4 linked regions of the Homo sapiens genome follow. The protein of the gene in region 4 interacts with the protein of the main gene of each other region in a pairwise test. Each region holds a gene or a part of one and is shown on either strand. Other genes may lie near its edges.

Region 1 (7,308 bases), on a different chromosome or scaffold from region 4:
TGAAAACTATATATATAGTTTTATATATTGAAAACTATATATATAGTTTTATATATTGAAAACTATATATATATAGTTTTATATATTGAAAACTATATATATATAGTTTTATATATTGAAAACTATATATATAGTTTTATATATTGAAAACTATATATATAAACAATACACACATACACACATACATTTTATACATATGTGAAAACAACAGCCAAAACTTTTTCAAATTTGATGAAAACTACGAACTCACAGACCTAAGCAGCTCAACAAACTCCAAGCACAAGAAACATGAAAAAAACTACAGCAAGGCACATCATAATCAAATCACTTAAAATCAGTGGAGAAAATCTTAAAAGCAGCCAGACAAAAAAAAGGCCCCTTGTGTACAGAGAACCTCAGAAGCAATGCAAGCCAGGAGACAGGAGACCATTTTAAAATACTGAAATGAAGGTGGGGGAGGGGGCGGAAAGGCCTGTCAACTTAGAATTCTATACCCATGAAAGTATCTTCAAAGTGAAGGCAAAATACTTTTTCTTTCTTTCTTTCTTTCTTTTTTAGACAGAGTCTTGCTCTGTTGCCCAGGCTGGAGTACAGTGGTGCAATCTCAGCTCACTACAAGCTCCGCCTCCTGGGTTCACACCATTCTCCTGCCTCAGCCTCCCAAGTAGCTGGGACTACGGGCATCCACCACCATGCCCGGCTAATTTTTTGTATTTTTAGTAGAGACAGTGTTTCACTGTGTTAGCCAGGATGGTCTCGATCTCCTGACCTCGTGATCTGCCCACCTCGGCCTCCCAAAGTGTTGGGATTACAGGCGTAAGCCACCGCGCCCGGCCCAAAATACTTTTTCAGACATAGAAAAGTTGAAAGAATTTATCACCAAAAAGGTCAAAAGTTTAAAAAAAAAAAAGTCACATGAAAACAAAAGTCAAGCAACACAATACTAATATCAAAGTAAATTTCAATGTAAATTTACTTTGTAAATTTCATCTGTAAAATTTTTACAGATGTAAAATTTACATTTTACAGATGTAAATTTCATCTGTAAAAATTTTACAGATGTAAATTTCATCTGTAAAAATCAGGATGAAAGTTTATTGTTAACTGATGAAACCTATAATTCACAATGAAGTTTACTCTGTGAACTTTTATGTGTCAGAGTACAATGTTAGAAAATAAGGCAACAGTAACAGAACTGTAATTGTAGCAGGAAATATAAGTATCCCTCTTTAATTCTTAATAAATCAAGTAGGCAAAGGACAAGAATCTATAGGTTTAGACAGCTATCAATAAAGCTAATTTAATGCAATACCTATATACTCTACAAATAATACTCCTTTTCTACTGTCTGTAGGACATTTACAAAAATGATAATATACGTGGCTACAGAGAACATCAATAAATTCTCCAAAGCGGAAATGCACAGGGCACATTTGATTACATGTGACTATACAATGGATTACACAATATGATAAAACTAGAAATGTAAAAAGTAGAGGGGGAGAAGAGGACAAGGCAATAGGGTAGGAGAAAATTCATAAATTTTATACAAAACTCTGGTATCAAAATTGGCCAACAACAAAAAAAACCCTACAAGCCAATCTCACTTATTAACATAGAAAGAAAAATTATAAATCACATGGCATTCTGGTTTGTATACTTTAATCTCTTGCGGGTTTGGTACATCATAAGTATGATATGTTGAAGACACTGAGTTATTGGTCCAATCACACTAACGGCAAGATCCTAGATTATGGTGAAATTACCATCAGAAAGCCATTTCAGATCTCCCTCGGCTCTCTTTCACTCAAGACTAACCCTGGTGACACACACATCATTACTTGTGCTTCCTTCTATGAGTGACAATGAGTGATGGGAGATAAATCTAGAAAAAGCCGAATGAGACGTCTACATTGGGGCAGCACTGAAAACTTCTAAGTGACGTGCTGTGAGGCATGGTTAAGGAAGGTTGATCTGCTGACGGACTAAAGCAGGAGAAAGTCTGAAGTAGAAGCTAATTATAGGATTTCAATAAGTGTAGTCTAGGTAGTAATAAAAGTAACAGTGGGGCCAGGCATGGTGGCTCACGTCTTTTATCCCAGCATTTTGGGAGGCTGAGGCACGTGGATCACTCGAAGTCAGGAGTTCCAGACCGGCCTGGCCAACATGGTGAAACCCTGTCTCTACTAAAAATACAAAGTTAGCCGGGCGTGGTGGCACACATCTGTTATCCCAGCTATTCGGGAGGCTGAGACAGCAGAACTGCTTGAACCTGGGAGGCGGAGGTTGCAGTGAGCCGAGATCATGCCAAAGCACTCCAGCCTGGGCAACAAGAGCAAAACTACATCTCAAAAAAAAGAAAAAAAAAAAAAGTAACAGTGGGTATGGAAAAGGGGTGGCATTGATGAGACTGACAGAACTGGTCAGCAGGAAGATACAGCAGTAGTACAAGGTACAAATGATACCATCAAGAAAGTGAACACACAACCCACAGAATAGGAGAAATTATTTGCAGATCATGTAACTAATGAGTGACTTGCATCCAGAATACCTCAAGAACTCTTATGACTCAATAATAAAAAGATAAATAACCCAACTGAAAAACAGATAAAGGATCTGAAGAGACATTTCTCCAAAGAAGATATACAAATAACCTATAAGCATATGAAAACCACTCAACATCATTAGTAATTAGAAAAATGCAAATCAAAACTACTAAACATCCCTTTTCACTCACTAAAATGGCTGTCAAAAGACAGACAGACAATAACAGGTGTCGGTGAGGATGTGTAGGTATTATAACCTCCATACATTGCTGGTGGGCATGTAAAATGGTACAGCTACTGTGGAAAGCAGTGTGACAGCACCTCAGGGAGTTAAACATAGAGTTACCACGTTAATTCAACAATTCTCCTAGGTACATACCCAAGAAAAATGAAAACATATGATGTCCACACTAAAACTCGTACATGAATGTTCATAACTGCATTATTCTTAAAAGCCAAAAAGTGAAAACCATCATAAGCTCCATCAACTTATGACTGGATAAACAAACAGGATATATCCTTAGAATAGGATGTTTGGCAATAAAAAAGAACGAAATACTGATAGATGTGACAACACGGCTGGCACTTGAAAACGTTATGCTAAATGAAAGAGGTCGGACACAAAAGGCCGTATCTTGTATGACTCCACTTATATGAAATGTCCAGAATAGACAAATCCATAGAGACAGAAAGTAGATTCGTGGCTACAGGTAGAAGAAATGGGGAGCAACTGCTAACTGGGTTTCTTTGAGGGGAGACAAAAGTTCTAAAATTAGATTGTGGTGATGGGTATACAAATCTGTGAATATACCAAAAAAAAAACCTCTTTATTACTTATGAATTATGTCTCTGTAAAGCTGTTTAAAAAAGAGTAATGTGGCCGGGTGCGGTGGCTCACGCCTGTAATCCCAGCACTTCGGGAGGCCGAGGTGGGTGGATCACAAGGTCGGGAGTTCGAGACCAGCCTGACTAATATGGTGAAACCCCGTCTCTACTAAAAACACAAAAATTAGCTGCGTGTGGTGGTGGGTGCCTGTAGTCCCAGCTACTCGGGAGGCTGAGGCAGAAGAATCACTTGAACCCAGGAGGCGGAGGCTGCAGTGAGCCAAGATTACCCCACTGCACTCCAGCCTGGGCGACAGAGTGAGACTCCATCCCAAAAAAATAGAAATAAATAAAATAAAGAGTAATGCAAGGCAAACTGATGTACCAATGCCGACTTTGAATTTCATGACTGAGTGACTAGGAAAATGTCATCATTAATAGGAAATAACAGCAACTACTATTTATGACATACATATACAAATATATAAACTGCTTAATACAGACATTGTACAAAGTCTATGCAAAGCACTTTATATGCTCTGTCTCACTTAATCTTCACAGCAACCCACTCAATAGGTATTTTTTACTTCCATTGTACAGAATTGGAGATAGACAAAAAAGCTAAGCAACTTAAGGTCATATAACTGGTAAGCAGTAAAATTGAGATTTAAATCCAAAGTACTTGTTCAGGCCCACTATAGCTTAAGAGGTGGAAAGAAAAGGTGAATATAATTTTTTCTTCTTTTTTTTTTTTTTTTTGAGATGGAGTCTCTGTCGCCCAGGCTGGAGGGCAGTGGTGCCACTTCAGCTCACTGTAACCTCCGCCTCCCAGGTTCAAGCGATTCTCCTGCCTCAGCCTCCTGAGTAGCTGAGACCACAGGTGCGTGACACCACGCCCAGCTAATTTTTGTGTTTTTAGTAGAGATGGGGTTTCACCATGTTGGCCAGGTTGGTCTCGAACTCCTGACCCTCATGTGATCTGCCCACCTTGGCCTCCCAAAGTGCTGGGATTACAGGCATGAGCCATCGTGCCTGGCTGTGAATATCACTATAGTTTCAGAGTATGGAAAGTAAACGTGAATATCATTTTCACAAATAATCTATATAATTTTATTATATACAATGCATTCACAAACTTTCGCACGCTGACCATCCTTAGACTTAAGATGGCCCAAGCCAGGCATGGTGGCTCACTCCTGTAATCCCAGTACTTTGGGAGGCCGAGGCGGGCGGATCACCAGGTCAAAAGATGGAGACCATCCTGGCCAACATGGTGAAACCCCTTCTCTACTAAAAGTACAAAAAAAAATTAGCTGTGCATGGTGGCCCATGCCTGTAGTCCCAGCTACCTGGGAGGCTGAGGCAGGAGAATCACTTGAACCCGGGAGGCAGAGGTCGCAGTGAGCCAAGATCTCGCCACGCGCTCCAGCCTGTGTGACAGAGCGAGACCCCATCTCAAAAAAAAAAAAAAAAAAAAAAAAGACGGCTGGGCACAGTGGCTCATGCCTGTAATCCCAGCACTTTGGGAGCACGAGACGGTGGATCACCTGTGGTCAGGAGTTTGAGACTGGCCTGGCCAAGAAGGCGAAACCCTGTCTCTACTAAAAATACAAAATTAGCTGGGCATGCTGACAGATGCCTGTAATCCCAGCTACTCAGGAGGCTGAGGAAGGAAAATCTCTTGAACCTGGGAGGCAGAGGTTGCAGTGAGCGGAGATTCTGCCACTGCACTCCAGCCTGGGCAACAAGAGCGAGACTCCATCTCAAAAACAAACAAACAAACAAATAAACAAACAAATGAACAAACAAACAAAAACCTTAATAAGATACCAGCAGTTAGTGGGCCGGGCGCGGTGGCTCACGTCTGTAATCCCAGCACTTTGGGAGGCTGAGGCCCGTGGATCACAAGGTCAGGAGTTCAAGACCAGTCTGGCCAAGATGGTGAAACCCCATCTCTACTAAAAATACAAAAAAATTAGCCGGGTGTGGTGGCCGGCACCTGTAATCCCAGCTACTCTGAAGGCTGAGGCAGAGAACTGCTTGAGCCTGGGAGGTGGAGCTTGCAGTGAGCTGAGATCCTGCCACTGCACTCTAGCCTGGGCGACAAAGCGAGACTCTGTCTCAAAAAAAAAAAGATACCAGCAGTTTTATGCCACTTTGCACATGTATTTTATTTTTTTAATCCAATAGCAACAGTTCTAAAACAAACACACCGATGCCAGCCTGTTCCACTATGCTTCTTAAAAGCTATTTGGCTTTTTTTAACGCAGATGAAGGGCAACATACTGAAGAAATCCTGAACTAGATGACCTTCAAGATTCCTTCCAACTTTGATGAGTTTAATAACAGCCACTATTTATTATTCGGCTGAGGAACTCCAAGTCAAATTTTATACGTGATTTAAACACCTATTAAACATCCTAAAAACACAGATGACAGCAATATAATAGGGAAGCAGACCCACCAGCTACTTATTGTGAAGTCCTTCAGAGGTTTCTTTAATCAGAGCATATGGTAACTTGCATGCTTACTATAGAAAGCATATTTAAACATAGTAAATGTTGCTTCAGTAAATTTAAAGCCTGGCACAAATGTACAAAAACACCAATACCCTATGCCTACTCTTTACATTAGTGAAATGCTTTAGAGTTCACAAAGCACACTATGTAAACCTGCGTTGTGCAACACTCCCGTATCATTGCATCCTTTTGAAATATGAGTAAACTGAAGCTCAAATTAAAAGACCTGCCAGTGGTTACACGTCTCAGAAATGGCATGTCAGCATTCAAACAGCAGTATAACTCCAAATCTAACATTTTTCTAAGTTAAGAAAAAAAATTCACTTGGCAGAAAAATTTATCTGACATTAAATGTTCTATCAGTGCAAAGTATGGCATTGATGGGCCTTAGAAGGTGTAACATCTCTTCAGAAGAGAAGAAAGAATCTTCTGGTCTAGAGGAATTAAAAATCTTAACAAAATACATTATTATTTTTGCTAAAAGAGAAATGATTACAGTAAGTAACTTTAAAAATGGTATCGTGATCAAGTTGATAGCTTACCTAATGCAAAGCTGTATTCCTGGGATAGAGTTCCTTATGCCATGGCCATCAAAAAGCAACATGAATAGAATGAGGAAGAAGAACCCATTTCAGTTTTGCTTCAAATTAAAATCACATTGACTTCTGGAAGGAAGAGTAACAGTGAAAATGTAAAAGAGATGCTATGTACACGTGTATTTGCTAATAAACACTAGAGATGTACATTAGCGGCAGAAAGAAAAGTAATCAAGACTGGCATTTTTGGTTATATTAAATTCCATTCTGCAACTTCATAGCTCCTGCTTTTGTATTTTTTAAAAAAACAAACTTATTTTGTAATAATTTTAAATTTTCAAAAAAACTGAAAAGATAGTGCATAACTCCCATATACCTCTCATCCATTACTGTGGCATATTCATTAAAACTAGAAAACATGGTCAATGACTATGTAATTTTGCAGAATTAATATATCCTTTGGAACAGTGCTATTGGTCTCCTGACCATTGTCAATCAGTATTCTTCCATTTTTTTCCTAATTAGAACACTTTGGCCAAATCACTTAGTAAAAACTATTTTAAGATGTTTTTTAAAAAAACAAGCCACCTGCTTTATGAAGTTTGATTCATGATTCCCTTCAATTTTAAGCCACGGCTGAATGTTTTACTTAAAAACTTCTAGGACAAACATTCTATTACAGCAAACTCTCTGAGATTCAAAAGAGAAGGTAACGTTCTAGAAACTAACCCCCCATTTATCGATCATCCTTCCATTGAATTTCAATAAAGCCAAGGAAATGTTTTTAACTGTACCCTCACGTGCATTAGAATTCAGGATAAGAAGCTGAAATCAAGAAAGCAGAAGGCAGAAACAGTACTCATTTCAAGAAATTAACAACAT
Region 2 (5,030 bases), on a different chromosome or scaffold from region 4:
TGGTGCGCCATTTTTTAAGCCTGTCGGAAAAGCGCATATTTGGGTGGGAGTGACCCGATTTTCCAGGTGCTGTCTGTCACCCCTTTCTTTGACTAGGAAAGGGAACTCCCTGACCCCTTGTGCTTCCCGAGCGAGGCAATGCCTCGCCCTGCTTCGGCTCGTGCACGGTGCGCGCACCCACTAACCTGCGCCCACTGTCTGGCACTCCCTAGTGAGATGAACCCGGTACCTCAGATGGAAATGCAGAAATCACCCATCTTCTGCGTCGCTCACGCTGGGAGCTGTAGACCGGAGCTGTTCCTATTCGGCCATCTTGGCTCCTCCCCCCGCCCTGATGTTTACTTTCTTAAAAACTGCCATGTGCTGTGCTCTGGCTAAGTAAAGAAAAATTTTAGCTATCCTACAAAATGTGTGGCTGAAATGTTGTCAAATATTTATATAGAACAAATATTTAAAAGTTCTTGATAACTAAACTTGATAACTGGATAACTAAACTTGAGAGAAGAGCCTCATTAATTGCTGATTGGAATTAGGAGAAAAATCATATGTTTTATGTATATATAACTATGTTGTGTGTGATAGTGAGTAAAATATTGCTATTTGATTATAGATGTTCACTTTTAATTCTTTCTCCATTTGGATACTTTCTATTTAGCCCTCCAGATCTACTCTTCCCCTTACATACTCTGCTCTTTGCCTTGAAGCCCTAAAAATTATGTCAACTGACTCCTACCCCTTCTGCTTTCCTTTTGGGTTTGGCCAGCGGGAAACCCAAGCAGGACATTGGAGAAAGGAAGAAGTATGAAATTGTATATTTCTCTAGTTCATGAGATTCCCCTATGCCTGGCCGTTCCCTTTACAGCTGGTCATTGATCCTTTCAGTTATCTTCTTTACACTCTTCCTGGGTTCTCAGACTTTCTCCCCAAGTTCATTTGAGACTAAAGGGAGAGATAGCCTGTCTGATACTAGCCCTGGGTTCCTGCACTATTCTTTTAGTTTCCCTACACACTACCCACACCTTATAATAAGGCCCTTTGTAAATAAACTCTCCTTGGCTTAAGCTATTTCGAGTGTGCCATCCATTTCCTGTTAAGACTGACTGGCAAACCATTGTTCATCACTGTAGGTCCCTAACTTATATGTGGTCAAGGTCACTCCTTTGGTTTATTGGAGAAGGGCGTTGTTATGGTTTATTTAACCAGTTTATTCTTCTTATAGTTTCACCATTGCCCACAGGGAGTTTTTCTTGCATATGCTAATAGCTCCATTGTTTACCCAGAATGAAGGTTTTTTGTTTATTTATAAATAGTTTCAAGTGTTGTTTTATTGGGATTATGAGAAGGATGGAAGGTGAAAGCAGACGATAAACTGCAAAGATTCAAATGCCTATACTAAAATATAAATTTTTTTATCCTACTTAAAGAAGTTTTCAAGAAAGAGCACTTTATAATGTTTCCTCCCCTCCACATACTGATTAGCTTCCTATAACTACATTCTATCTAAAATAAATAACTTGAAAGTTGTCTAGTTTTTATTTGGCTGTTTGTTAGATTTTAACTCTAATATACTTGAAAAAATTTAAAAAATTTAATGTGAAAACACATTTTAAAATGTTTTCTTTACCCCAAAATATTAATTTCAGTAACAAAATTGCATTTCAATTTAGCACCAACTTCCTAACAAAGAATACTTACTTATATAGAAATGTTTTCTCTTTATATAACTCAAAATACTATGAAAAACAAAAAACAAAATCAATAAACAGATTAAATTCCATTTCCATACTCTGTGACCTCTGTATTACCCTATTAGCAGTGAACAAAATGCCGATCATCAAACAAATACTCCTGGATCACCTAATGAGGAGGCCTCTGGGATTCTATAATCTTAGGTGTTGTGTCTGAGTGATACTTCCATCTGATCTCATCAATTTCACCATCATCAAGTATAAATGAAGCCAGCACTGGAACCTGAGAAAAATAGTTCTTAGCCAGGATATGTTTGTGTTTGATCTTGTGAATAAATGAGCGTTCATATCCCTGCAAAGAAAAAAATCAAATTCTAGTAAATATCACAGATATATTTTGCCAGGTAAAAATACTGTCATGCCTCGGTGCCTTTGCTTGTCAATTCTTTCATCCCAGACTACCTTTATTTTTCTCACGTTGTCTATCATCATTCACGACTCAGCTCCTATGATACTTTAACCTGGAAGTTTTCCCCAACTCTCCCTCTGACTTCTCTAAGTTTAAACCACTGCTAGTTATCAACTCAATATTCATTCTTTCTCCCATTTGAGCCAGAGGCCTGATTTTGTATAGGGTGTGATGTGTCTAGCTTTCTTAGCCCTTATTCTAACTGGGGGTATCTAGTTAGAATATATATATATATATATATATTATTAATGTTATAGATATTGAGGTGAGAAAAAACAAAAATAAAAACAAAACAAAACAAGGGAAGTCTGAGAAACTGTCACCACCAAGAAGAATCTAAGGAGATAACTAAATATCTTCCAAGATTATTTAATTATACACAATATATATAACCTTATATAATTATATATATATAATTGAATAAAGCCTTTGAAAGGGACTTTTGAGAGTGGGAAGACTCACCTATCAAGCACCTCTAGCCTTTTGCCATTACTGAGAGGTACATGTAATGAAGAAGATGAACTAGCTATCCTATCACTAAGAGCCCACCAAGCATGAGAGAGAAAGCTGAAGATTAAATATGGCTGAGGAAAAAGTGAGATGGCCTGAATTTCTGAGAACAAGGTGGAGCCACCATACTAGCCCCAAACTGCCAACCTTTGAACTTTCTTGTTACATAAGAAAACTAAACCCACATTTGATTAAATCATTATAAATTGCTTTTTCTGTTCTTGTAGCTGAACCTAAATGCAACTGAGACAACAAAAAGTTATATTCATTAAATTTTCTTGTTTCTCTGTAATTACTTAGTACAGTATTTGGCACATTCAAAAGTAAATTCTGGTTAAATTAATAAATATAATCTATTACCTATTAATCTTAATTGGCCCTCTTTTCAATCAAATCACAAATACTACCTATACTTCTTCCTAAAATTTATTTTCTGAGAATAAGACATTCCCTCAATAAAGGTCTCTTCAGAGGGTCAAATCAAAGATAAAAGAAAGTCCTGGGTGAAAGGACCAAAAGAGCAGAAAACATTATATAGGAGTATCCTGGGCTTATTAAAATTTCCTCTTAACAGAAAAATTTACTAGGTTAAAATATTCATCTTTTGAGCTAATCTAACTTTGTTTCTACCACTTCTTAGCCCATATTTCATTCAAGAAAAACTAACACACTTTATTATGCTATATTAACTTACACATGTACAGAACTTTATAGGTTTTCAAGGTGCCTTTACAGTACTATAAATTATTAAAGATGAGATAAATTATGATATATGTGTTCAAGGCACTAATAAGTAACTCTTAAATAACTGAATATATTTCCATATTATATTATTTATATTGTTAAGTAAAGCAAAGAAACTAAGTCTCAGAGTCATTTAATATGAAATTCCTGCTACAGTAAAAGTATATATACTTACATACACATAGAAAACTTCCAGAAGGATTTCAATAGATTATTATATACCTAAGAAATAGTAGTTATCATTGCAACATGGAGATAGGGATGGGTGGACATCAAGAGACCTTTTTTCCCATTGAAATAAGGTCCATTCTCTTGAAATAGCCATGTGATGGTTTTAAACTATGTTCACAAATTCTTTGGGTGTACAAATAGTTCTAAGAATATTACAGAAAGGTCCCATATACCCCACACCCACATTTTCCTGAATGTGTCTCAATCTGGGTTTGTCCTGTGTTTTCTTCATTATTATTAGACTGAAGGGATGGGTTTTGGGGAGGAAGACCACAGGGGTGAAGTGCCCTTCTCCTCACATCATATCAAGGGTACACACCATCAGCATGACAGCACTGCTGCTGTTAATCTTGATTACCTGGCTGAGGTAGTGTTTGTCAAGTTTCTCTACTGTAAAGGTCCTCCCCTTCCATCCATAATATAGTCTTTGGAAAGGAGTTATTATGTACAGCCCACATTTAAAGGGTAGAGAGTTATTCTCCATCTCCTTAAGAGTGGAGAGTATCTACATAAATTATTTGGAATTCTACATGGGAGATTTGTCTATTTGCCTCCCTTTATTTATTCATTCAGTCGTTTTTTAAATTTTTTAAATTGATAATAATTGTACATATTTACGGGGTACATAGTGATGGGATGATACATATATCATGATCAGAGTAATTAGCATATTCATCTCAAACATTTATCATTTCTTTGTGCTGGGAACATTCGATATGCTGCGTCTAGCTATTTGAAACCATATATTGTAATTAACTATAGACAACCTACAGTGCCACAGAACAGTACTAGAACTCACTCCTCCCATCTAGCTATAATTTTTGTATCCTTAACAAATCTCTCCCTGTTCCCTCAACCTCTGAGACCTTTACTTTCTACATTACATTTTTTATTCTGTTCAGATTCTAAGCCAATAATATATTGCTTTAAAATTAAAAATAAAATGCATCAAAAATTTTTAAAGTGCTTTCATAGTTACTACCTAAGTTTATTCATGCCAAAAAAAACTATGCAGAAAGCTTTAAATAATGGCCTACTCAAAGCTTCCCTATGATGAGATACCATTATCTCTTTTTTATAGACGAGAAAGCTGGGTCATTGAGACATTCACAAATTTGTCCAATTTCTCCCAGCTCATGAATGGTAAAGCTAGAATTCAGAGCCAGAGCTGCTTTTATCCTCTTTACTGATTCCACTTATTTAGCTAATCTTTCTAAAAATTTATGAAGCAAAGAGGGAAGGTTTTAATGTAAAGTTGTCAGTGACAGAGATTTGAGTTAACTGGGTCAGGATTACTGATTTTAAGTCCATGATTGTTCCTACTTTGGCCAGTGTGCACACAAGGAGAGATCAATCTGCTCCACTTAAAGTTCACATTAACGAAAGTG
Region 3 (9,127 bases), on a different chromosome or scaffold from region 4:
GGTCAGCCCCCGCCAGGCCAGCCGCCCCGTCCGGGAGGGAGGTGGGGGGATCAGCCCCCCGCCCGGCCAGCCGCCCCGTCCGGGAGGGAGGTGGGGGGGTCAGCCCCCCGCCTGGCCAGCCGTCCCATCCGGGAGGGAGGTGGGGGGGTCAGCCCCCCACCCGGCCAGCCGTCCCGTCCAGGAGGTGAGGGGCGCCTCTGCCTGGCCGCCCCTACCGGGAAGTGAGGAGCCCATCTGCCCGGCCAGCCGCCCCGTCCGGGAGGGAGGTGGGGGGATCAGCCCCCCGCCCGGCCAGCCGTCCCGTCCGGGAGGGAGGTGGGGGGGTCAGCCCCCCACCCGGCCAGCCGCACCGTCCGGGAGGGAGGTGGGGGGGTCAGCCCCCCGCCCAGCAGGGAGGTGGGGGGTGGTCAGCCCCCCGCCCGGCCAGCCACCCCTTCCGGGAGGGAGGTAGGGGGGTCAGCCCCCCGCCCGGCCAGCCGCCCCGTCTGGGAGGTGAGGGGCGCCTCTGCCCGGCCGCCCCTACTGGGAAGTGAGGAGCCCCTCTGCCCAGCCACCACCCCGTCTGGGAGGTGTACCCAACAGCTCATTGAGAACGGGCCATGATGACAATGGCGGTTTTGTGGAATAGAAAGGGGGGAAAGGCGGGGAAAGGATTGAGAAATCGGATGGTTGCCATGTCTGTGTAGAAAGAGGTAGACACGGGAGACTTTTCATTTTGTTCTGTACTAAGAAAAATTCTTCTGCCTTGGGATCCTGTTGATCGGTGACCCTACCCCCAACCCTGTGCTCTCTGAAACATGTGCTGTGTCCACTCAGGGTTAAATGGATTAATGGTGGTGCAAGATGTGCTTTGTTAAACAGATGCTTGAAGGCAGCATGCTCGTTAAGAGTCATCACCACTCCCTAATCTCAAGTACCCAGGGACACAAACACTGCGGAAGGCCGCAGGGTCCTCTGCATAGGAAAACCAGAGACCTTTGTTCACTTGTTTATCTGCTGACCCTCCCTCCACTATTGTCCTATGACCCTGCCAAATCCCCCTCTGTGAGAAACACCCAAGAATGATCAATAAAAAAAAAAAAAAAAGAGGATATATGGATTGTAAATAATATGAAGAGGCTCAAAATCATTTATCATTAGAGATTTGCAAATTAAACCAAAATACCACTACACACTTATTAGAATGGCCATAAAGCCTACAAAAAAAACCAACAGCTAACACCACACTTAAGGCTGAGAAACTGTATACTTCCCCCAAAGACTGGGAATAACACGAGGATGTCCTATCTCACCACTCCTATTCAACAGTGTTCCAGAAGTCCTAGCTAGTGAAATGAAGCAAGCAAAGGAAATAAAATACCTTAGGAAGAAAGGAATAAAGTGGTCTTCATTTGCAAAAGACATGATTGTTTATTTAGGAAATGCTAAAGAATTAACAAAAAAAACCCCCTAAAAGTAAAAAGTGAGTATAGCAAAGTCACAGTATATAAGGTTAATATACAAAAGTCAAATGTTTTCCTATATACTGGCAATAAATGATTAGAATGAAATATAAAACTAAAAACACCATTATCATAGCACAAAAAACACTTATAAGTCTAACAAAATATGTAAATGATCTGTATGTGACAAATTACAAAACTATGAAAGAAATCAAAGAAGGTTTTAGCTAGAAAAGGATAGTGGAACAGGACCTCCCCAGCCCTTGTCCTTCACAGAAACACCAATTTAGCAACCATCTATGTATAAAAGTGCCCTGATGGGTCCAAGTAGAAGGCTGTGACATCCTTCTGGAGTCCAAGACTGATAGAAGCCATTTTGAGAAGGCAGAATCATGCCCCAGTAGCAGGCATGTGACTACAGAACTGGCTCCAGACCCAGCAGCAGCCTCATCAGCATGTGGGCTTCAACTCACCTGTCCAAGGTCTCACAGGAAGACTTGTTTGTCTGGGAACCCAGAAGGAACCACACCCACCCAAGCCCCAGTAACAGGCCCACAACCGCAGACCTGATTTTGAACATGTAAGCAGACCCACAACCTGGCTCCACCTAAGTGACTGTGGTTTGGAAGTCAGTCTCACCAAGGGACCCAGCAAGAGAAGATCTTCATCTACTGAAATCACTCTGTTTAGTACAGAAGTGGGAACTGCTCCTTCAAATGTACAGACACCAATGAAAGACTCAAGGGATTATTAGTAAATACAACATGCCAAAGGAAACCAATAAGGTTACAGAAACTGACTATAACAAGATGAAGATCCATGATCTGCTTGACAAAGAATTCAAAATAATCATCTTAAGCTCAATGAGCTACAAAAACAAACAAACAAATAAACAAACCCAGATAGAAAATGAAATAAAAATCAGGAAAACAATACATGAACAAAAAGTTCAATAAAGGAGAAGCATAAAAAAGAACCAAACAGAAATCCTAGAGCTGAAGGATACAATGACTGAACTAAAAAATTCAATAGAAGGCTTCAACAACAGACTCAATCAACCAAAAGAAAGAATCAGCAAACCTGAACACCGGTCATATGAAATTATACAATTAGAGGAAGAAATATTAAAAAGAATAAAAAGTGAAATGAAGTAATACTACGGGACTTATGGTACACCACTAAGTAACTTAATAAACACATTATAAAAGTTCCAGAAGGCAAAAAGACAGAGAGAAAGGGGGCAGAAAGCACATTTAGATTATGGCTGAAAACTTACCAAATCTAGGGAGGAAAATGGACATCCAGACTCACGAAGCCCAAAAGTTCCCAAATAGGTTGAAGCCAAAGAGGTCTGTACCAATAGACACTATAATGAATTTGTCAAAATTCAAAGACAGAGAAAAAATTTTGACAGCAGTGACAGAAAAGTAACTTATTTCATATAACAGAGCCTCCATAAAGGTATTGGTGAATTTCTCAGCAGAACACTTGCAGGCCAGGAGAGAGGGAATGACATATTCAACATACTGAAAGTAAAAAAAGAAACCTGCCAACTGAAAATAATTACCTGAAAAAACTGTCTTCAGGAATGAAGGAAATAGCCAGGCATGGTGGCTCACACCTGTAATCCCAGCACTTGAGGAGGCTGAGGGCAGGCAGATTGCTTGAGCTCAGGAGTTCAAGACCACCCTGGCAAACATGGTGAAATCTTGTCTCTACAAAAAATACAAAAATTAGCCAGTCATGGTGGTGCATGCCTCTAGTCCCAGCTACCTGGGAGGCTGTGGTGGGAGGCTGACTTGAGCCCAGGAGGTTGAGGTTGCAATGAGCTGAGATCATGTCACTGCACTCCAGCCTGGGCAACAGAGCCAGACCTGGAAAAAAAAAAAAAAAAAAAAAAAAAGAAAAGAAAAAGATAAAAGAATAAAGAAAACATGAAAACTTCCTCAGATTAAAAAACTCAGGGAGTTTGTCACTTTTAGACATGCCCTAACAAGAAATGCTAACAGGAGATCTTCAAGTTAACTGAAAAGATACTAAACCAACAGTATGAAAGCATATGAAAGTATACATCTCACTGCTAAAAGCAAACATGAAAACAAACATGGAATATTGCAATACTGAAATCTGTGGCACGTAAATCTCATTGAACACTAGTATATAAATTAAAAGACAAAAATAGTATGAGTAACTACAACAACCACAGAAATTTGTTAATAGAAACAATATAGAAAGAAGTAAAATCTGAAATCAATTACATACATTGGTGAGGAAGAGGGGGGAGAAGTGTAGAGATTCTGAATATGAATGAAGTTGTTACTAGCTTTAAAAAGCCTGCTATGACTACATAATATTTGATGCAAACCCCATAGTAACCAAAATAAAAAGTATAGTAAATAAACAAAAAAAAGAAAAAAATCAAAGCATTCTACTACAATCATCAAATCACAAAGACAACAAACAAGAGAAAAACAGGAGAAACAGAAAGCAAATAGAAAACAATGAATAAAATGGAAACAATTAAGTACTTAATTATTAAAAATTATTACTTTAAATTTTTAATAATTAAGGGCTCTCAGTAGACATGGAATGGCTGAAATGGATAATAAAAACAACACTCAACTATACGCTATCTACAAGAGACTCTAACATTTAAGGACACACGTAGGCTAAAAGTGAAGGGATTGAGAAAGATATTCCATGCAAACTATAACCAAAAGAGAGCAGGGTGGCTATCTATATCAGACAAAATAGACTTTAAGTCGACAACTGTCAAAAGAGACAAAGAAGGCATTATATAATAGTAAAAGGGTCAATTCAATAGAAAGATACAACAACTAAAAATACATATGCACCCAACATCAAAGCACCTTAAAATATACAGTGAACATTGACAGATTTGAAGGAAGAAATAGATATCGATACAATATAGAAGGAGACTTTGATACATCACTCTCTATAATGTACAGGTCATCCAGACAGAATGCCAACAGCAAATATTGATAGAATTGGAGGAAGAAATAGATATCAATACAATACAGAAGGAGACTTTGATACGTCACTGTCTATAATGTACTGGTCATCCGGACAGAATACCAACAAGTAAATTGCAAACTATACAACACTATAGACCAAAGACCTAACATGCATATACAGAACATGAGACCCAACCATAGCAAAATAATCATTCTTCTCAAAAGGACATGAAACATTCTCTATAACTGATCACAGCCTAGGTCACAAAACAAGTCTTAACAAATTTAAGAAGACTAAAAACATTCTAAACATTTTGTCTGATCACGAGGGAATGAAACTAGAAATCAATAATAGAAAGAAAATGGAAAAATTCACAAATACAGGGGAATTAAATAACATACTATTAAATAATACTGGGTCAAAGAATAAATCAAAACAGAAATTATAAAATATCTCAAGACAAACAATAATAAAAACACAGTATACCCAAACATATAGGATGCAGTAAAAGCAGAATAAGAGAAGTGTTTATAGCAATAAATTCATTAAGAAGAAGAAAGAGGCAGGACACAGTGGCTCACGCCTATAATCCTAGCACTTTTGGGGGCTGAGGCAGGCGGGTCACTAGGTCAAGAGATTGAGACCATCCTGGCTAACATGGTGAAACCCCATCTCTACAAAAAATACAAAAATTAGCTGAGCATGGTGGTGCGTGGCTCTAGTCCCACCTACTTGGGACTCCCACCTACTCGGGAGGCTGAGGCAGGAGAATCACTTGAACCCGGGAGGCGGAGGTTGCAGTAAGCCAAGATCATCACGCCACTGCACTCCAGCCTGGTGACAGAGCAAGACTCTGTCTCAAAGAAAAAAAAAAAAAGGTCTCAATAAAACAACCTAACTTTACACCTCAAGGAACTAGAAAAAGAACAAACTAAATCCAAAATTAGCAGAAGGAAGAAAATAATAAAGATTAGATTAGAAATAAATGAAATAGAAAATTGAAAAACAATTTTAAAAATTGACAAAACTAAAAGTTCCTCTTTTGAAAAGACAAACTAAATCAACAAATCCTTGGCTAGACTTTAAAAATAGAAGACTCAAACAAAATCAGAAATGAAAGAGGACACAATTGATCCCACAGATATAAAAAGTATCATAAGGGACTATTATGAACAATTATATGCCATCAAATTGGACAATCTAAAAAAAAATGGGTAAATTCCTAGAAAAATATAACTTACCAAGACTGAATCAAGAAGAAATAGAATGCTTGAATAGACAAATAACAAAAAAGGAGATTGATGGAATAATCAAAAAATTCCCAACAAAGAAAAGCCAAGAGCCAGATACATTCTAGCAAACATTTAAAGAAAAATTAATACAAAACCTTATTAAACATATCTAAAAAAAAAAAAAAAAGAAGAGGGAACACTTCCAAAGTCATTCTGAGGCCTGCATCACCCTGATACCAAAGCCAGACAAATACACTACAAGAAAACTACAGTCTAATACATTTGATGAATATAGACGTAAAAATCCTCAATGAAATGTTAGCAAACCAAACACAACAGCACATTAAAAGAATCATATACCATGACCAAGTAGGATTTTTCATTGTGATGCAAGGATGGTTCAACATATGACAACCAACCAATGTAATATACTGCATTAATAGAATGAAGGATAAAACTCACATGGGCATCTGCACAGATGCAGAAAAAGCACTTGACAAAATTCGATACTCTTTTGTGATAAAAACTCCCAATAAACTAGGTATGGAAGAACCTTATAGCAAATTAGGTAAAGGAAAAACAAAATAAAGTCCATTTATGAGAAGCCCACAGCTAAGATACTTAAAGATAAAAAACTGAAAGCTTTCCCCATAAGATGAGGAACAAGGCAAGGTTGCCTACTTTAGCCTCTCCTATTCAGCGTAGTATTTTAAGTCCTAGCCAGAATAACTAGGTAAGAAAAATAAATTAAAAACATCCAAATAAAAAGAGAAGAGGTACAATATCTGTTTGCAGATGACATGATCTTAGATGTAGAAAACCTTAGGGACCCCAACAAAAATGTGAGAATAAACAAATTTGCCTTTAAAAAAGAAGGAAATCCTGCCATTTGCAACAACATGGATGAACCTGAAGGACATTATGCTAAGTGAAATAAGCTAAACACAAAAAGACAAATACTGTATTATCTCAATGTATGTGAAATCTAAAATAGTCAAATACATGCAAGCAGAGAATAGAATGGTGGTTGTAAGGGAACATGGGGAGAACAAAATGGGAAGCTGTTGTTCAAAGGGTACAAAGTTTCAGTTAGGCAAAATAAATAAGATCTGCAGGTACAACCCAGTGTCTGTGATTAGCAATATTGTATTCTTAAAATTTTGCTAAGAAGTTAGATCTAATGTTAAGTGCTCTTATCACAAAACGTGAAAAAAAGATGAGTAGAAGGAAACTTTTCAAGGTGATGGCATTGATTTCTTGTAGTAATAATGGTTGGATGGTTTCACAATATCTACTTATCTCCAAACAGAAACTGTATACATTAAATGTCTATAGCTTTCTGTATGTCAATCATACCGCAATAAACAGGTTAAAAAATGAAGCAGCACCAGATCCCTGTACACACACCTCTAAAAATAGTCCCTTTGTATATAAAGCACCCCAAATTTTCTCCTTCTGAGTGTGTTATCTACTTAATTAAGGGCCTGGACTACAAAATCCAAGTTTTCACTTTTCACCCAAAGTTTTCCATTCTCACACACAGAATTTTCTCGTTCAGTTAGCAGATGCAAGAAGAGAATTTCAGATATTAGCTTTAAATACTACATTCTTGTCTATACCTGGTATTACTAGCTCTACCTAATTCATTTTCTTTCTTACCATGAAATTATAGAAACAAAAAGGTTACTGCAAAACACTTATAAACATATTGTCAGCATGAAATAATTATAATTATCCTATAATAAATTGTACCTTTTGAACAATTTTGGTCACTTTTTGATCTTCGTGTATTAATAAGTTAATACATGTAAATCATAACCAGAAGGGAAAATCAAAACATTCCACTTACCAAGTAATGATGAAAAAGAGAATGTGTGTGATTTAGTTAATTTAAAATATTATAGAAAGCAACAAATAACAGAAATGGTATCTGGGATAAAGTTCCTGGACCTGGATAAGGATGTTTGGTGATATCTCAAGCTGTTCAACACCTTTGCACATGCCATTTCTTCAAGCTTGAAGAGATACAGAGCAACTCCTTCCCTCTCCCATTCTCCATCTGGCTAATACCCCTCGGCATCCTGCTTAAATGTCACCACCTCAAATAAGTCTTAGATCCCAAACTAATTAATCCCCCTCATTAATTTTCTCTAATAGACCCAGTTCTTTTCCTTCTTGGTACTTATCATAATAAAGAACCAAAATCTGTGCCAAGGGTCCAAAATAGCACTCTACCTGAAAAGCAACACTTAATCCTTGTCATTTCTCAGCTCTATTTCAGAATGAGCTGGGTTACTACCTGGGGTCCCATAACGACCTATATCCCAATGGCCTAGAAATAGAAGGAATACACCGATTCCCCCTCTTGATGCTGATTCTTCACTTTAATAAGCCACCACCATTGTCAGTCAAGATGTTTTGCACTGTCATCGGTCCCAAACTCCTGCTGGTTAGCCAGCTGTCTACTTCCAAGAAGAAAAGGTGAACACAGAAAAAAAGGCAAGAAATTCAAAATATCTATGCTTTTTACAGAAAGAGTAAATGGTACAATTATTTTGGAAAACTTACTGGTGATACCTACTAAAAGCTGACATACATGGGGCCTATGAAACAGGAATATGACTCTGAAGAATGTACACAACAGAAAAACACATACGTGAACCAAAAGATTTGAACGAACTGAGACTTTAAACAAAATGATTCATTTTTTAAAAACTGCCCCAAAAGTAATAGCATGGAATTTATTTCTAAATGACTAATTTTCTTGCATGGAGTGGGACTTTCATTAGATTATCAAAGGAGATTTTTCCCAAAGAAGAGTCATAAATAGGTATATAAACGATTAAGAACCTTTGCTGGAAGGAGGTAAGTTTCTGAACTATAAAAGTCTAGTCAGCCAGTAACGTGAAACTCAATAACTTACATAAAAACATCTACCACAACTGTCCATGGACACTTCATAGAAGAAAAGTAATACATAACAATACCTTGAGTAATGAACCCTTTGAGAATGAAGCTCCTTTAAAATGAAGTTATCACATTAAAATGAAGTCATTATATTAAAATGAAAACAGAACAATTCATAAATCAGGTGAAGCTGGGTTAGTGTGATCTTTTCCTCCAATTCGCATTACCCAGCTGTCCAGGATACAAATCATCCCTTTACACACCGTTTCTCTATCTTTAAATAAGGAAAGGTAAGAAGGTCACCGATTTACAAAATCCTAAATTTAGTAAGCTTCCTACTTTAAGCCCCTCGCCACTCATTTCCACAGCCATTTCCCCAGGGTAGAGCAACTGCTCCCTCTTTATGAACCTACCTTTCTGTTCCTAGTCTCCTTTATCAACATGGTAGGCAACAGCTTATTGAATATACTTTATAGACTTGTGCATGCACATTTTAGTCACTATTTTTCAGCCAATAAATTACTTCAACTAAACATTTACATTTCTAGACAGAGATAATTTTAGGTACTG
Region 4 (9,406 bases):
TTCCATGTACTTCTACTCTTCATCTTCATCTTAATCTGAAGCAGACTCCTAAGTCAAGAGGGCAAAACAGCCAGAAAAGTTAAGGAGCAAGAACACAGCTATGCCTTATTTCCCTCTTGGGAATCTATAACAGAAATTCAGCAAACTTGCCCTATGGAAATAAATCATAGCATTCTACCAGAACCTTCCCTCAGGGCCAACGCCAATCACTATGGTTGATGATGAGAATGCAGTGAGGATGCTGGAGAATAAGGCCAGGTGTGAGGTATGAAGAAAGGCAGAGGATACTTTCAACAGGCTGAGGGGAAGGCATGCAGGATTTTCTAGATTATTCAGGTATCACTCATTACCAGTTTCTGTTGAAGACAGCATCTTTGTCACTGTTAAGCTTCTTCTTCCAACCTACCAAGCACAGTGACAACTCTTAAGTTTTAGGCAATTTCTCACTTAGATAAATGTGAATGCTATAAAAAAGTTACACTATTTTGACAATATATAAAAATTATAACAATGAAACACTAATGTTGGTTGTTTTAGGACTATAACTCATTACTAATATCTCCCTTTAATTATATAAATAAAACACCTTACCAGTTTCGAAGCATTTTCACACACACTATGTGACTGAATCTTGACAATAAACCTGGAATGTCAATAAAGCTGGTATTCACCCCCTTTTACAGCTAACTAAACCCACGTTTAGAGACATTGTAATCCACAGGAGATTCACAGACACTTTACCAGATGCCCACCACTGTGTGAAGAAGCCAAAAATCTGCCTAAAACAAAGTCCTTACCAGTAAGCATCTCCAAATCCAACAGGGAGAGCCCACGTCAACAACAACCACCACATAAACTACATAAGCCAGCATTAACCTGTGGAAGCGCCCTGGAAGCAGGTCCACGTGTGACTGTGCCTAAGTAATCACTGACCTATTTTGGCCAAAAGAAAAGTGTCAGGCCAGTCTAGGAGCAGGGAAAGAAGCCAAGAAGCCAGAGCTTCCACCTCCTTGGCTGCCACTCTACTACTCTGTTCTCTGCTGTCTTCCCTTTAACACTTTTTTTTGAGACAAGGTCCCACTCTGTCTCCCAGGCTGGAATGCAGTGACACTATAAAGGCTCACAACCTCGTCAGGTGATCCTCCCACCTCGGCCCCTCAAGTAGCTGGGACTACAGGCACACACCACCATGCCCAGCCAATTTTTTTTTTTTTTTGGAAGAGGCAGGGTCTCCCTATGTTGCCTAGGCTGGTCTCAAACTCCTGGGCTCAAGTGATCCTCCTGCCTGGGCCTCCCAAAATGCAAACATAACAGGCCTAAGCCACCATTTCTGGGCTCAATACTTTTTTTGTTTACCCCCTTTCTCAGCTTAAGCTATTTTTCGAGGTTCCTCTCCATGTTACATAATCTTATACCTTTACTTACCTATACATCCCCTACATATCTCTAAGATGACAATAGCATAAATGGATCCAACAGATAGGAAACATTTCTTTCATTTAAGTACTTGTGTTCTGTCGCACAAATTATAAAGTTCTTTGAGGAAAGGATTCAATTGTCAATGCCTAGCAAGCACTCAAACACAACTACAACACAAAAAATTGAGGGAATAATGAATACATTGGAGCAGAAATTAGGAGCAATACGCAAAAATATGTTTGAAATGCACAGAATCTAAACTGCGTATATGTGATTTTCCCTAAAGAGCCTTAACAAATGCAGTACAGTAGATCCTGTCAAACCCATTCCTAATTTAAGTTTGTCAGACTGCCTAGGAGCATCTAATCACCAAGAATTCTCAAATCCATCCATTTCTTTCCTTTTTTTTTTTTTTTTTTTTTTGGTGAGAAGAGACAGGTTCTCGCTCTGTTGCCCAGGCTGGAGTGCTCCAGTGCTCAGGTGATCCTCCTGCCTCAGCCTCCCAAGTAGCTGGGACTACAGGTGCACACCACCATGCCCAGCTAATTTTTTTTAATACTGTAGAGACAGAGTCTTGCTATGTTACCCAAGCTGTTCTGAACTCCCGTCTCCAAGCCAACGTGGCCTCCCAAAGTGTTGGGATTACAAGCATGAGCCACTGTGTACTCAGCCTGTACTTCCATTTTTAAAAATGTGCCACAAGCCAGGCACGGTGGCTCATGCCTGTAATCCCAGCACTTTGGGAGGCCGAGGCAGGCGGACCACCTGAGGTCAGGAGTTTGAGACCAGCCTGGTCAACATGGTGATACCTTGCCTCTACTAAAAATACGAAAATTAGCTGGGCGTGGTGGCAAGCCCCTGTAATCCCAGCTACTCGGGAGGCTGAGGCAGAAGAATCATTTCTACCTGGGAGGCAGAGGTTGCAGTGAGCCGAGATCACGCCATTGCACTCCAGCCTGGGCAACAGAGCAAGACTCCGTCTCAAAAAAAAAAAATGTGCCACATGTCACAACATTGTTAAAAATCTGAATGCTGAATTCAAAATAGTTGCAAGTACATGTTGTATTATATGTAAAACAAGATCACAACAGCATCTACCTCCCTAAGGTTGGCAAGGATTAAATGACTTACTGTATGCTAGTGCATATTATTTAGATGTTTTGAGAAATAACTACCCCAGACCCAGCAAAATCTTATCAATCTGAAACTTAAATTAAGGATAATAAGATTATTTAAAAAATGGATTCTAAAAGCTGAAAATGCATTTAGATCTCAAAAACAGAGTAAGAATCAATTACATGCTTTTCTTCAAGGACTGCAAGTCCTTTCTGACACTGGAGAAGAACTTAACTCTTTCCCAAAGACAGCCAAAAGGAATATCAGGACACAGGCCTTGAAAGGGATAACATCCAAATGGGAAATGCCACCCACCACCTCTGAAGCCAGATTACTCCAGTCTATTTTTATCAACCAACCATTTATACGACTTTTTTTTTTTACTTTAAAAAATTCCATGAGGGGGCTAACAACTCCTAAGTGTTATGTGCTTTGCATATATTAAGGTATTTTAGCCTCATAACAATCCAAAATGGAAAGTGCTGGTATAACCCCACTTTATAGATAATAAAATGAGGCACAGGGTGCAGCTCCTAGAGTATGAGGCGCGCGGCAAGGGCTCCCAGCTCCAAGGGAAGTAGCTGCCTGCGGACAACGGGCGCAGTCATCCTGGTGAAGCCCAGACCAAGCCCAGACCTACAGCCTTGAGAAAAGCGGGGCTCACAGCTTGGGGCAAAAGTGGTCATTCCTCTCAAGATTCTCACACCTGTCCAAACGACCTAGTCAAAGCCAGTCCTTGGGGTCGGATCCCATTGGGGGAGCAGCTGGGGATAGGGAAAGGTCTCCAGAAGTTTGGCAGGCGTCCCGGGGTGAGGAGTAAGGGTCCCAGGTGTGAAGGGCCTGGGGGGAGGAGTCCTTGTATGGGGGAGGGGTCCTTGTATGAGAGGCGGGGCAGTGGTCCCTGGTTTGAGGGGCCGCGCGGGTGTCCCGGGGCTGAGGGTCGGGAGTCCGGAGGGGCAGCGCGGGGCTCCCAGGGTGAAGGGCGGGGTCCCCGGGGTGAGGGGCCGCGCGGGGTTCCGGGGGTGAGGGGCAGGAGGTCCCGGGGGTGAGGGGCGGGAGTTCCCGGGGGTAAGGGGCCGGGGTCTCGGGGCGAGGGGTCGTGCTGGGGTCCCACATGAGGGGCGGGGTCCTAGGGTTGAGGAACGGTGTCTCCGGGGCGAGGGGCGGGTTCCAGGGTAGAGGAACCGGGGTCCCGTTGAGGGGCAGAGGTCCCAGGGGCGAGGCCGCGTGGGGGTCCCGGGGGTGAAGGGCGGGGGTCCTGGAGTGAGGGGCCGCGCGGGGGTCCCGGAGTGAGGGGCTGCGCGGGGGACCGGGCTGAGGGCGGGTCGCGGGGGTTGAGGGCGGGGTCCGGCTCACCTTCCGACAGCTCCAGCTCCAGCTCAGCCAGGCTCTCCCGCACCTCGGCAGGCAGCGGCGCCGCCTCCAGCGGGCACCCGCGGTCAGCCATGGCCAGGCCGGCTAGCGTCCGGGCAGAGGCTGGAACCGGACCGGGCCTGGCGGCGGCAGCGCAAACCTCGGCTACGTAGCTCCCCTCAGGCCAACAACCTACATCCGCCAGGCGAGGAGCGGGAGGCGGCGGGACAGGGGCGCGGCCAGGACAGCAACGCACCCGCGCGGGCACGAGCGCGGATGGCTCCGCCGCGCCGCCGCTGCCCCGCGCGCTCCTGAGCGCCCGGCCGGCCCTACACGGGAGCGCGTGCGCGGCGGGAAGGGCGGGTAGCGAGCGCGCGTGCGCAGTGGGTCTCGGGCCCGCGCAGCCCTCCCGGCCCCGCCCAGCAACACCAGAGCCTCGCTTCCATTGGCCCCGAAGACGCGTCGATGCCGCTCCGGGCTCCCATTGGGAGAGGCGGGAGAGCGCCGCTCCCGACAGGCTCTGCGCTGGGCCTGCTTGAGGGTGGCGGGCTTGAGGCGGGCAGGCTGCTTAGTTGCGGCCCGAGGCGCCTAAGTGGGGATGACCAACCCGTGGGCGTTGGCGCTGACCCCTAGGCGCCGCTGGTGGCCCCGCGCGCGGCCCTCCGGCCAGCCCCGCCCCTCTCGGGGCTCCTCCTTGGTCCCCGCGCCATGGCGCGTCCGCGTTGACCGCTGTCTTCCCTTTCGGGCTGTGCTGATCGCGAACGCTGCGCAGTCCGTGGTGGCGTCGAGGCACCTTTCTCGTGCCTTTACCTGTGTTCACTCCTTTGCTTTAAAAAACAGCCCTAGAAGTACACATCGTTGGCCCCGAAGGAGCCCCAGCAGCCATGTCGGACCGCGAGGTGACCTTGGAGGGCGGGAGGACGGACGAGGGGCCTGGCGGAGCTAGACTGAGAGGGCGCCGCCGGCGTCCTGAAGGCCCTGCTCCCCGAATGTGTGGGAGTGTGTCTGACGGTGCGAGGGTGGCTGTGGCGGGGCCTGAGCAGCGTGTCCGTGTCCCGATGCCGCCCGCCTGTTACTGAGTTAGGCAGGAGTGCCCGAGTCTGGCGAACTTCAGCAGTTCTCGTTCCAGAGCTCCACACGAGGTTGGCCAAAGCTTTGCGGGACTTACATACCCTTCTTCCTCCGCCCAGTCCTGCTTCCTTCCCCTTCCTTTCACGGGTGTTGATACCATGTCAACATCCTCGTACCCCAAACTCAGTCGCAGCGTCTGCTTCTGGAGAAACCATTCTGCAGCATTAAAGCTGGTGAGAAGATGGGATTCGAGGCTGCATCACTCACCAGTGGTGAAGTAGGAGGGTGAACTAGTGAAATGGAATCCACGAGTGGGTGAAGTATCAGACATTTCATATATGGTGAACGTAGTAGATAAAAGGAAGGAAAGGGGGATTGGATAGCTATTGCTTAGTGCCAACCGAGACTCTTAAGAATAGTGGTCAGCTGAAGGCAAGCAACAAACAGTTGTAAGCCAGTGAATCTGTCCCGTTACATATAGAGAAGCTTCATTTACTGCAGCAGGTCAAAGACAAGAACCAGGCCCAGGAATTAACATCCCTGTTTGACTGAACTCCAAAAATAGCAAAACACCCAAACAAGGCAATACTCTTCCACTAAGTTTGGATCCCTGCTAAGAAAAGATGAGGCTGGGCACAGTGGCTCACACCTGTAATCCCAGCACTTTGGGAGGCCAAGGCGGGAAGATTGCTTGAGTTCAGGAGTTCAAGACCAGCTTGGGCAACATGACAAAACCCCATCTCTACTGAAAACACAAAAAATTAGCCGGGCATGGTGGCCACGGCTGTGGTCCCAGCTGCTTGGGAGGCTAAGGTGGGTGGATCACCTGAGCCCTGGAAGTCAGGGCTGTAGTGAGCTGTGACTGCACTCCAGCCTGGGCAACAGGAGTGAGACTCTGTCTTTTAAAAAAAAAAAAGAAAGAAAAGAAAAGCCCGTCATACATGGGTTGGAGATACCTGGGTAGATGCCTTCAAAGGTTTTGACTCCCCAAACTGCCTTAAACCTTTTTTTCGTAGACAGTGTCTCACTCTGTTGCCCAGGCTGGAGTGCAGTTGCTGGATCATGGCCCACTGTAGCCTCAACTTCCTGGGCTCAAACGATCCTCCCACCTGAGCCTCCTAAGTAACTGGGACTACAGGTATGTGTCACCACACCTGGATACATTTTTTATTACTTGTAGAGGCAAGGTCTTGCTATGTTGCCCGGGCTTGTCTCAAACTTCTAGGCTCCAGTGAGCCATCACACCTGGCCTGCCTTGAACCTGAAGCCTGCCGGGGTGGCTCACCTCTCCTATTAACCTGACACTACTCCTCCTCCCTCCACTTACTGCTCAGTAGATGTATAATTATGGTTGTTTCTTTTGCATTATTCAGCTGGAAACAATGAGATAGAAAAGAGAATATAGCTCCCTCCCCCTCAGAAGAACTGCGTTATTAGTTTGCTGGGGCTTCAGTAACAAACTGGGCAGACATTTATTGTCTCCCAGTTCTGGAGGCTAGAAGTCTGAGATCAAAGTTTTCACAGGGTTGGTTCCTTCTGGGGCTGGGAGGGAGAATCTGTCTCATGCCTCTCTCCCAGCTTCTGGTGGTTTGCTGGCAGTCTTTGGTTCCTTGGCTTATAGAGGCATTGTCCCAGTCCTGCCTTTATATTCACATGGTGATCTTGTTGTGTGTGTCTCTCCAGACGAAGGCATAAGTAACATCATTGACAAAGGTCATTCGACATGGGCCTCTTTTTAGAAGGACACCAGTCATACTGATTAGGGCCCACTCTAATGAGCGCATCTTAACTTGTCTACAAAGACCCATTTCCAAATAATGTCACATTCACATTGACCAGGGGTTAGGGCTTCAGCATCTTTTGAGAGGGACACACTTCAGCCCATAACAAGCTGTACCACCCAGCCAACATGTACTGACAGGAGCTGGGAAAGTTTGGGGCTGGATTATGAGGGTGCTTGATGAAGGGAGCTGGAATGTAAACTTGCATAGATGTGTTTATTGAAATACGTGATTTAACACCTTGGCAAAGAGTGGCTGCAGACTTCCTGCAAGGATGGCTCCTAGAATGGCGGTATAGCTACTGCTGCCTAACAAATTACTCCACACTTCGTGGCTTAAAACAAGAATCATTTCTTATCTCTAGGTTACTGTGGGTCAGACATAGTGGGGATCGGTGATCTCTCTAGGTTACTGTGGGTCAGACATAGTGGGGATTGGTTATCTCTCTTCCACAGTGTCTGAGGCCTCAGCTGGAGCAGTTCAGAGGCTAGAGGTTGGAATGAGTGAAGGTTCATCTGCTCGAATGTCTGACAGCTGATACTGGAGATTGGCTGCAGCCCAGATTGGGGATGTCAGCCAGCACACCCCTACACGGCCGGTCCCTGTGGCCGAGGCTTTCTCACAATATGATGGCTGGATTCCAAGGGCAATCTAAAGACAAAGGACAAAAGAAAGCTGTATCCTTTTTGTGAACCAGCCTCAGAAGTTGCATACCATCACTTCGGCTACTTCCTATTTGGAAGAAATGAGTCACTAAATTACCCATATTCAAAAGGAGAGGAATTAGGCTTCATCTTCTAAAGGGAAGAATATCAAAAAATTTGCCAGTATATTTTTAAAACACCACACTTGGAAAAAGCCATGGGCCATGGTAAGCAAAATTGAAATGGCAAAATTGCTATGGCAGACAGTGGTGGAAGGGAGTAAAAGGTTCAGGGGTGTGGGCATGTTGAAATTTATATACTCCGTGCATCTAGAAGACATTTGAGACGATCATATTCCACATGAAGGTGTAAATAACACGTCATTTATAAAGATCATTAGACATAGGATGATGAAAGGGGCACTGATGTCACTAAAATATTCAGTGATGGCTCATCTCTGTAGGCAAGAATGACAATAGAAAGGCTGTTCCAGAACTTGGCTGGGTGATAGCACTGGGGATGATAGGATCCTAAGACAAAAGAGGCCATTCTGGGACATAGTGGGGACCAAAGAAAAAAACCCAAGAAGCCAAAGGCAACACTTAGCTGGCAGAAGTCAGAGGATTGCAATTATAGCAGCCAGCAGGGTCTGAGTGGCAGCCAAGGGGACCTCACTTGTATGGTTATAGAACTGGTCAATAAACATGGCATCCCTGGAGGCAAAACAGGTGGGCAGCTAAGAAGGGTACTACTCAGCTGGCAAAAAAAAAAAAAAAAAAAAAAATCCATCCAGGCACGGTGGCCTGTGCCTGTAATCTCAGCATTTGGGGAAGCTAAGGTGGGAGGATCACTTGAGCCCAGGAGTTCAAGATTACAGTGAGCTGTGGTTGCACCACTGCACTCCAGCCCGGGCAATGTGGCAAGACTGTCTCAATTGAAAAAAATAAATAAAGATGCTTGTCCCAGTTTTAAAAAATCAGGATTCCATGCCCAGCTTCTGGAACTGAGCCAGTTTTCAGAAATGGAAACATTACTTGAGAGGTGGCCAAACACCAGGAAGAAGGACCTATAACAGTACAAGTACAACAGAAATGAATCCCCAGGTACTTTTCCAAAGGGTCTGATAGCAATTTCTTTTGATAACTACATCCTGGAGAAAAGTGATTAGCCAAACATTTGGAAGACTTGTGGACACAGGGTCTAAATTGATGTCCAGATGCCTAGAATATCATCCCCTTCTGTTAGAGTGGCTGCATGTGGTGGCCAGGTAATTGATGGAGTTCTGCTAAAGGTCCAGCTTACAGTGGACCCGTAGACCTAGTGGACTGATCTAGTGATATTTTCTTAGCCTTCGAGTGAGTAATTGGCATTGACATACTTGGCAGTGAATGCTCATTCCAGGTCCCTGACCTATAGAGTTAGATAACAAAATGGAAAAAGCCAAACAGAAACCTGAAACTGCCCCATCCCCTACCAAGATTATAAAACAATTATCCCAGAGCGGGAATGGCAGAGATAAGTGCCACTTCTAAGGATCCAAGTGATGTAAAGTGGTGGTTACCAACATTTTTAATTTACCAGCATGACCCCTGCAGAAGTCACAAGGATCCTGGAGAATGGCAGCCTACTCTATTTGCTGTCAACCAGTAGTTGTTTTGGGTACACTGCTGCAAACTCATCTAAGAAGTATCCCTGGCCGGGCACAGTGGCTCACGCCTGTAATCCCAGCACTTTGGGAGGATAAGGTGGGCGGAACACGAGGTCAGGAGTTCAGTCTGGCCAACATAGTGAAACCCTGTCTCTACTAAAAATACAAAAAATTAGCTGGGTGTGGTGGTGTGCACCTGTAATCCCAGCTACTTGGGAGGCTGAGGCAGGAGAATCCCATGAACCTGGGAGGTGGAGGTTGCAGTGAGCCGAGATCATGCCATTGCACTCCAGCCCAGGTGACAGTGTGAGACTCTATCTCAAAAAAAAAAAAAAAAAGTATCCGTAATAGCCTCTCTGCCAGATATGGTAGGT

Evidence for each region.
Region 1: the proteins of DIP2A (region 4) and ZBTB43 interact in binary tests that used the Homo sapiens proteins (3 or more experiments, as listed by UniProt).
Region 2: the proteins of DIP2A (region 4) and IQUB interact in binary tests that used the Homo sapiens proteins (3 or more experiments, as listed by UniProt).
Region 3: the proteins of DIP2A (region 4) and CEP44 interact in binary tests that used the Homo sapiens proteins (3 or more experiments, as listed by UniProt).

The regions. Positions count from the first base shown.
Region 1 is NC_000009.12:126,808,040-126,815,347, reverse strand, and holds part of ZBTB43 (zinc finger and BTB domain-containing protein 43), read right to left. Parts: intron 7,252-7,308; exon of another isoform or gene 7,156-7,251; intron 6,556-7,155; 5' UTR 6,433-6,555; intron 1-6,432. UniProt on the Homo sapiens protein: May be involved in transcriptional regulation.
Region 2 is NC_000007.14:123,450,886-123,455,915, forward strand, and holds the end of IQUB (IQ motif and ubiquitin-like domain-containing protein), read right to left. Parts: exon of another isoform or gene 2,047-5,030; intron 2,041-2,046; coding exon 1,858-2,040; 3' UTR 1,308-1,857; downstream 1-1,307. UniProt on the Homo sapiens protein: Adapter protein that anchors the radial spoke 1 (RS1) complex to the A microtubule of outer doublet microtubules in axonemes. The triple radial spokes (RS1, RS2 and RS3) are required to modulate beating of the sperm flagellum.
Region 3 is NC_000004.12:174,286,006-174,295,132, reverse strand, and holds part of CEP44 (centrosomal protein of 44 kDa), read right to left. Parts: intron 1-9,127. UniProt on the Homo sapiens protein: Centriole-enriched microtubule-binding protein involved in centriole biogenesis. In collaboration with CEP295 and POC1B, is required for the centriole-to-centrosome conversion by ensuring the formation of bona fide centriole wall.
Region 4 is NC_000021.9:46,453,708-46,463,113, reverse strand, and holds the start of DIP2A (disco-interacting protein 2 homolog A), read right to left. Parts: upstream 4,224-9,406; 5' UTR 3,983-4,223; coding exon 3,892-3,982; intron 644-3,891; exon of another isoform or gene 592-643; intron 403-591; exon of another isoform or gene 351-402; intron 49-350; exon of another isoform or gene 1-48. UniProt on the Homo sapiens protein: Catalyzes the de novo synthesis of acetyl-CoA in vitro. Promotes acetylation of CTTN, possibly by providing the acetyl donor, ensuring correct dendritic spine morphology and synaptic transmission.